Homo sapiens: one gene and its partner. The protein of the gene in region 1 purifies or fractionates together with the protein of each later gene. This does not show direct contact. Each region holds a gene or a part of one and is shown on either strand. Other genes may lie near its edges.

Region 1 (3,652 bases):
TTTGGGGCCTTTGGAGATGAGTCATCCTGCTAAAATAAACACATCAGCTTTCTCTTCACAACTTAATACACGTGTCCATATTTGGTAACAGGCCCGTGGTGAACATGTTGGCCTACCTGCAAAGGGGCCGTCTCCATGCTAAAGTGTGGGCACCAAACATTAGCATATGTACTAATAGATCATCAAGGAAGGTTATTAGTGACACGGCTACCTCTGACACATGGGACGCAACTTAAAATAGCACATGCAGACATTTTTCTCTTATGCTCGGACTCAGGGAAAAGCCCCACTTGGGTAATGTTTTGGGGTGATTTTGATGATCTGACTGGTTCTTTGTGTTAGGACAATGATACAGTTTAGAAGTTTGTCCTCTTCCAATTTCATGTTGAGATGTGATCCCTAATGTTGGAGGTGGGCCTAGTGGGTGGTGTTTGGGTCATGGGGGTGGATCCTTCAGGAATGCCTTTGTGCCCACCCTATGGTAATGAGTTCGTGGGAGATCTGGTTGTTAAAGAGGCTGGGACCTCCCCTTTTCCCCCTCTTGCCCCCTCTTGCCATGTGGCACGCCAGCTCCCCTTGCCTTCTGCCATGAGTAAAAGCTCCCCGAGGGCCTCACCAGAAGCAGATGCGGGTGCCATGCTTCTTGTATAGACTGCAGAACGTGAGCCAAATAAACTTTGTTTATGAAGTACCCAGCCTCAGGTATTCCTTCGTAGCAATGCAAAATGGATGAATATGGCAAGTTTCTTAGCTATTTAAGGAGACGTATGGGACTCTGCAGATGATCATATTCCCATATACAAATTAAGGCACATAGCCTTGATGGTTGGGAGTTTCCTAAATTTTCAGAAAATTCTACTGTGCTAGGTTGCCAATGCCACTCAAAGTGATGTATTGGTTGATATCCTAAGGAAAGTTGGGTTTTGAATGAACAGGCAATCAGTTAGGGTATTTGATGTATATTATGAGACATGTGGACTTGTATAAGGTGCCTGTGGGTATAGGAACAGAGCAGAAGAAAGAGAGAACAAGGAAGAAAGAGAGGAATAAAAGCAAGCAAACAAAACCAAAACAAAAATGGCACGCTGGAAAGAAGCCAAATGGAGGAAAGAAGATGAACCCCTTTAGTCCATATTCTAGTAGCTACTAGGTCCATTGGACCAAATTCTCCACGTCTTGCTCAGTAATGATACCGTTGACCACAAGGAATCAGTCCCTCTCTGGCAAGGTGGCAGGATGGACAAATGGCTTGTGGAAGGAGGAAGAGCAGAAACCACAACTCCTAATCTTAACAGGAACTCTTTGTCCAGGTAAAATGGGAAACTTTAATGTTTCCATGGAGCCAGGCACCCTGAGAGCTGGGGAAAGGAGAGGGGATAGGTAAGCCGTCTTTGAAGATGAAATAGCACCATCATAGCTGTGGTAATTGGACTCTGCTAATGGCTAAGAGTAGGTCCCACTCTTGGTGTTTAGAGAGACAATCTCGAGGAAAGGTGAGCTGACTGGTTGCTGTGGCAACTGGATGGGCGTATTGGTCCACTTAACTGTCCCCATAGTAACTAAGCTCCTGGGGAGTGATAGAGGAATTAGTTATCTTAACATACTACTATTATCCCCATGGTAACCAGTCTCTAGCCGGAAGTGGTCAGCTTCAAGGTGCAATCATAGGAAAATCTGCTGCCTAGAGAAAGGGTGGGCTGGACTCCTTGCGGGGTGTGTGTGTGTGGAGTGGGGAGGGGGCGGGGAGATGAATGTGCTTCTAGGCCTGGGAGCAAGGCTAAGACAGTTGGTGTGTGAGGTCTCTCCTTGCCCCCAGCTTATTGGTGCCCAACTCACTCATGGGTTGCAGTGGCCGGTACAGCTGGGAGGAGCGCCCCTTCCGGCTACACATTACCATTCTGGTGCAGGGTGCGCCGGCGCTGGCTGGACTGCATGCTCAGGACCAAGTATTGCCTCATAAACTCACTGAACCGCTTCTGATTGGCCAACTTCCTGGCCGACTTCCGGGCCCCGGTGAAGCCCCCAAATCTCTTCTGCAGCTGCTTCTGCTCCATCTCACCAGCCTCCTCCATGCCAGGCTCGGGCTCTTCCTGCTCCTGGAACAAGCTCCGGACTCGGGGCATTCGCCGCAGATGCTGCATCTCCGAAGCTCTCGGCTGGTAGAGAGCAGCCGCCACATGCTCTGGGGCGGCAGGGCTGAGCTGCCAAGAGCTCCTGGCCATGACCTTGGTGCATGGAGTCCAGAGGGGGCTGGGGAAGACCTTCTCTTCACACTCGAGGATGCACACCTGCAAAGATACGGGTGAGAGGAGGGGAGAAGGAACAAGGACCTCTGTTAATCCAGGGCGAGGGAGGAGATCTGGCCCACTGCACCAGTGCAAGTGCTTCTGAAGCATCTAAGTTATCAAGTAACGTGGAGCAGTTTTACACAGGTTTTAGGTTCGTAGAATTTCAGAATTGGAAACAAACAGAGAATCATCTGACCCAGCTCCATCATTTTACAAAGAAACCAGGGCTCAGAGAGGTGAGCGTAACTTACCTCTGGTGTCACAGCACGTTAACATAGGAAGTTAACACAGGATAAATGCGCCCAACACCGCACCTTGTTACATCTTTAGTCGGGTTTTTGGAGCCAAGCACAGCTCATGACTGTCACCCATAAAGAATTTTATTTTGTTCTCTCTTCAGGCTTGTGGGAGGTCACATGGGTTAAAGAAATTGGGGATGTGAAAGTATGTAGTCAAATCTGCAGGTTTATTTTAAGGTCACCATGTAAAGATCTACCTAGGTGTTGTTAATTTTTCATCCCGCGTACAGCAGTCGTCACTATCTGTGTATCATTTATAGCAAATGGGGTCAAGACCCTGTGGGGTGGTAGGCCGGCTGGACGTGCGGGGCTGAACCTGTGATCCAGTTCCAGGTGTGGGGAGAGATGCCATCATCAGACCAGAGCCCAGCAGACCCGCTCGGCTCCTAGGAACACTCTGCTCTGCCTCTCCTGCCAACCCTGACTTCTAGCCACCAGCTGGACCACGATGTTTCTCCAGCCCCTCTTGGCTGGTTCTGACCTTGGCCCCCCACCTCCCACGTTCTTGGTTCTGATTGGGTCTCCTGGAAGCCTCTGCCCCCAGCTTTTCTTCCTATTTGCTGTTTTGGCTTCACCCCTAATTTCAGTCCAGGTTTCTGGCCTTAGCCGGCTGGAAACCCCACTTCAACCTGACCTTACTGCTGTGAGTCAGTAGGCAGAGCTCCTCATCATAGCGTGGAGCTCCTGCCTGGCTTCCAGGTCACCTTCTGGGGCAGAGGCTGCAACTGGCCCGTATTCATCTCCCCTTCTCCTTATGCACAGAACACTGTTTTATTCCTAAAGGCAACGTATATGTTTCCCAAGCTTCCTTGGAGCCATAAGTAGCTGACGACATAAAAATGGAAGTGTAGGCCGGGTGCGGTGGCGCACGCCTGTAATCCCAGCACTTTGGGAGGCCGAGGCGGGTGGATCACGAGGTCAGGAGATCGAGACCATCCTGGCTAACATGGTGAAACCCCATCTCTACTAAAAATACAAAAAAAAAAAAAAATTAGCTGGGCGTGGTGGCGGGCGCCTGTAGTCCCAGCTACTCAGGAGGCTGAAGCAGGAGAATGGCGTGAACCC
Region 2 (3,652 bases), on another chromosome or scaffold:
GAGCCCAGGAAGTCAAGGCTGCAGTGAGCCATGATCACGCCACTGCACTCCAACCTCGGCAATAGAATGGAGTGAGACCCTGTCTCAGAAAATAAATTAATTAGCTCCCTCTCCCTCTCCCCCTCCCCCTCCCCACGGTCTCCCTCTCCCTCTCCCCACGGTCTCCCTCTCCCTCTCTTTCCACGGTCTCCCTCTCCCTCTCTTTCCACGGTCTCTCTCTGATGCCGAGCCGAAGCTGGACTGTACTGCTGCCATCTCGGCTCACTGCAATCTCCCTGCCTGATTCTCCTGCCTCAGCCTGCCGAGTGCCTGCGATTGCAGGCGCGTGCCGCCACGCCTGACTGGTTTTCGTATTTTTTTGGTGGAGACGGGGTTTCGCTGTGTTGGCCGGGCCGGTCTCCAGCTCCTAACCGCGAGTGATCCGCCAGCCTCGGCCTCCCGAGGTGCCGGGATTGCAGACGGAGTCTCGTTCACTCAGTGCTCAATGGTGCCCAGGCTGGAGTGCAGTGGCGTGATCTCGGCTTGCTACAACCTCCACCTCCCAGCCGCCTGCCTTGGCCTCCCAAAGTGCCGAGATTGCAGCCTCTGCCTGGCCGCCATCCCGTCTGGGAAGTGAGGAGCGTCTCTGCCTGGCCGCCCATCGTCTGGGATGTGAGGAGCCCCTCTGCCTGGCTGCCCAGTCTGGAAAGTGAGGAGCGTCTCTGCCCGGCCGCCATCCCATCTAGGAAGTGAGGAGCGTCTCTGCCCGGCCGCCCATCGTCTGAGATGTGAGGAGCGCCTCTGCCCGGCCGCGACCCCGTCTGGGAGGTGAAGAGCGTCTCTGCCCAGCCGCCCCGTCTGAGAAGTGAGGAGACCCTCTGCCTGGCAACCACCCCGTCTGAGAACTGAGGAGCCCCTCTGCCCGGCAGCCGCCCCGTCTGAGAAGTGAGGAGCCTCTCCGCCCGGCAACCACCCCGTCTGGGAAGTGAGGAGCCCCTCTGCCCGGCCAGCCGCCCCGTCCGGGAGGTGAGGGGCGCCTCTGCCCGGCCGCCCCTACTGGGAAGTGAGGAGCCCCTCTGCCCAGCCAGCCGCCCCGTCCAGGAGGGAGGTGGGGGGGTCAGCCCCCTGCCCGGCCAGCCGCCCCGTCCGGGAGGGAGGTGGGGGGGTCAGCCCCCCGCCCAGCCAGCCGCCCCGTCCGGGAGGGAGGTGGGGGGGGGGTCAGCCCCCCGCCCGGCCAGCCGCCCCGTCCGGGAGGTGAGGGGTGCCTCTGCCCGGCCACCCCTACTGGGAAGTGAGGAGCCCCTCTGCCTGGCCACCACCCCGTCTGGGAGGTGTACCCAACAGCTCATTGAGAACGGGCCAGGATGACAATGGCGGTTTTGTGGAATAGAAAGGGGGGAAAGGTGGGGAAAAGATTGAGAAATCGGATGGTTGCCGTGTCTGTGTAGAAAGAAGTAGACATGGGAGACTTTTCATTTTGTTCTGTACTAAGAAAAATTCTTCTGCCTTGGGATCCTGTTGATCTGTGACCTTACCCCCAACCCTGTGCTCTCTGAAACATGTGCTGTGTCCACTCAGGGTTAAATGGATTAAGGGCGGTGCAAGATGTGCTTTGTTAAACAGATGCTTGAAGGCAGCATGCTCATTAAGAGTCATCACCACTCCCTAATCTCAAGTACCCAGGGACACAAACACTGCAGAGGGCCGCAGGGTCCTCTGCCTAGGAAAACCAGAGACCTTTGTTCACTTGTTAATCTGCTGACCTTCCCTCCACTATTGTCATATGACCCTGCCAAATCCCCCTCTGCGAGAAACACCCAAGAATGATCAATAAAAAAAAAAATAAATAAATAAAAATTAATTAATTAATAAAAATAACTACAGGTGGCAATTAGAGTTACAGAGGATATAATTGTTAAAACAAGCATAACGTCTGTCTACTTTAGACAGGATGGTCAGAGAAGGTGCTTCTGAAGAGGTAACTGAAGCTGATCTCCTTAGGATAAGAAAGAGTCCGACATGGGAAGAGCTGGGGACAGAGAATCTCAAGTAGAGGAAAGAGTAACGTGAATGCCCAGAGGCAGTAGAGACCCTGGACACCTGAGGTGGTGAGAAAAAGCTTGTGGGCCTAGAGGTAGTACAAAGGAGGGCAAAGAGGGAGGAAGGTGAGGGCGGAGTAAGCAAATGTTCCCAGTGGAGTTTGTACACAGACAACTGCCCTGGGCAGACAAAGGAGGTTGGACCTCTGCTGGAGGGAAAGAGCTAGGTCTGTAGAAGGAAACACTATAGGATGATGGGATGGGGGAGCGACAGGCTCCACTAGATGCCCCAGACTCTTACCGGATAAGCCCATCCTCAGCAGCACTCCAGAATGTGTTGGGCCACATGGGCGCTGTGGCGATGCGCTTCACCCGGTTTGTGTGGTCTCCAAACATGTGGATGGTCTCCTTTACTGTCAGGTCGTGCACATGCACCTTAGAGTCGGCTGCCCCCGTGATCAAGATGCGGTCCCCAGCGTGAGGCAGGAACTATATAGGAGAAATGGAGGAAGGGGTGGGTGGTAAGAGTAGAAATGGCCACGGAAGGAGGCTAGCCTGGATGTCTGCACCCTTTTCTCTCTCCATGTCAGATAAGAGAATGAGCCCATGCAGGCTGGGCGCGGTGGCTCATGCCTGTAATCCCAGCTGCTCAGCAGGCTGAGGCAGGAAAATCCCTTGAACCCAGGAGGCAGAGGCTGCAGGAAGCCAGAGGCTGCAGTGAGCCGAGATTGTGCCACTGCACTCCAGCCTGGGCAACAGAGCGAGACTGTCTCAAAAACAACAACAACAACAAAAAACAAAACAAACCCTTGAGGTTCAGCAGTAATATACAGCAAGATTGTGTTCAAGCCCAAGTCTGTCTGACTCCCACATGCCCTACTTGCCTCATTATGACTACTTAGTAACCTAGAGATTAAGTAATAAATTAGTCCTGAAGTGAAAAAGACTTTGAGTGTTTAAGGGAATGGGTGTGTGTGGGTTTTTTTTGTTTTTTTTTTTTGAGACAGCGTCTCGCTCTGTCACCCAGGCTGGAGTGCAGTGGTGCAATCTCGGCTCACTGCAACTTCCACCTCCCGGGTTCAAGCGATTCTCCTGTGTCAGCCTCCTGAGTAGCTGGGATTACAGGTGTGCACCACCACGCCCAGCTAATTTTTGTATTTTTAGTAGAGACAGGGTTTCACCATGTTGGCCAGGCTGGTCTCGAACTCCTGACCTCAGGTGATCCACCTGCCTTGGCCTCCCAAAGTGCTGGGATTGTAGGCATGAGCCAGAATGCCCTGTTGGGAGTGAGTGTTTTAAATTAGTTTGACTGCTTCTGAAAAACAATCTGGTAATAGTAACAAAGATTAAAAACAATTTCTAGTTTTTGACTCAAAACTTCCACTTCCAAGAAATAATCCAGGCCAGGCGTGGTGGCTCATGCCTATAATCCCAGCACTTTGGGAGGCTGAGGCGGGCAGATCACAAGGTCAGGAGATCCAGACCATCCTGGCTAACACGGTGAAACCCCGTCTCTACTAAAAATATAAAAAAATTAGCCGGGCGTGCGCCTGTAGTCCCAGCTACTCGGGAGGCTGAGGCAGGAGGATGGTGTGAACCCAGGAGGCAGAGCTTGCAGTGAGCTGAGATCACGC

The links. The genes of interacting proteins can lie anywhere in the genome.
Region 2: the proteins of PNOC (region 1) and WDTC1 purify together in Homo sapiens (co-immunoprecipitation; 2 studies listed by BioGRID and IntAct, with this or other methods). This does not show direct contact.

Annotation. Positions count from the first base shown.
Region 1 is NC_000008.11:28,337,676-28,341,327, reverse strand, and holds part of PNOC (prepronociceptin isoform 1 preproprotein), read right to left. Parts: intron 2,682-3,652; exon of another isoform or gene 2,540-2,681; intron 2,289-2,539; coding exon 1,884-2,288; 3' UTR 1,837-1,883; intron 1-1,836.
Region 2 is NC_000001.11:27,286,529-27,290,180, reverse strand, and holds part of WDTC1 (WD and tetratricopeptide repeats protein 1), read right to left. Parts: intron 2,508-3,652; coding exon 2,320-2,507; intron 1-2,319. UniProt on the Homo sapiens protein: May function as a substrate receptor for CUL4-DDB1 E3 ubiquitin-protein ligase complex.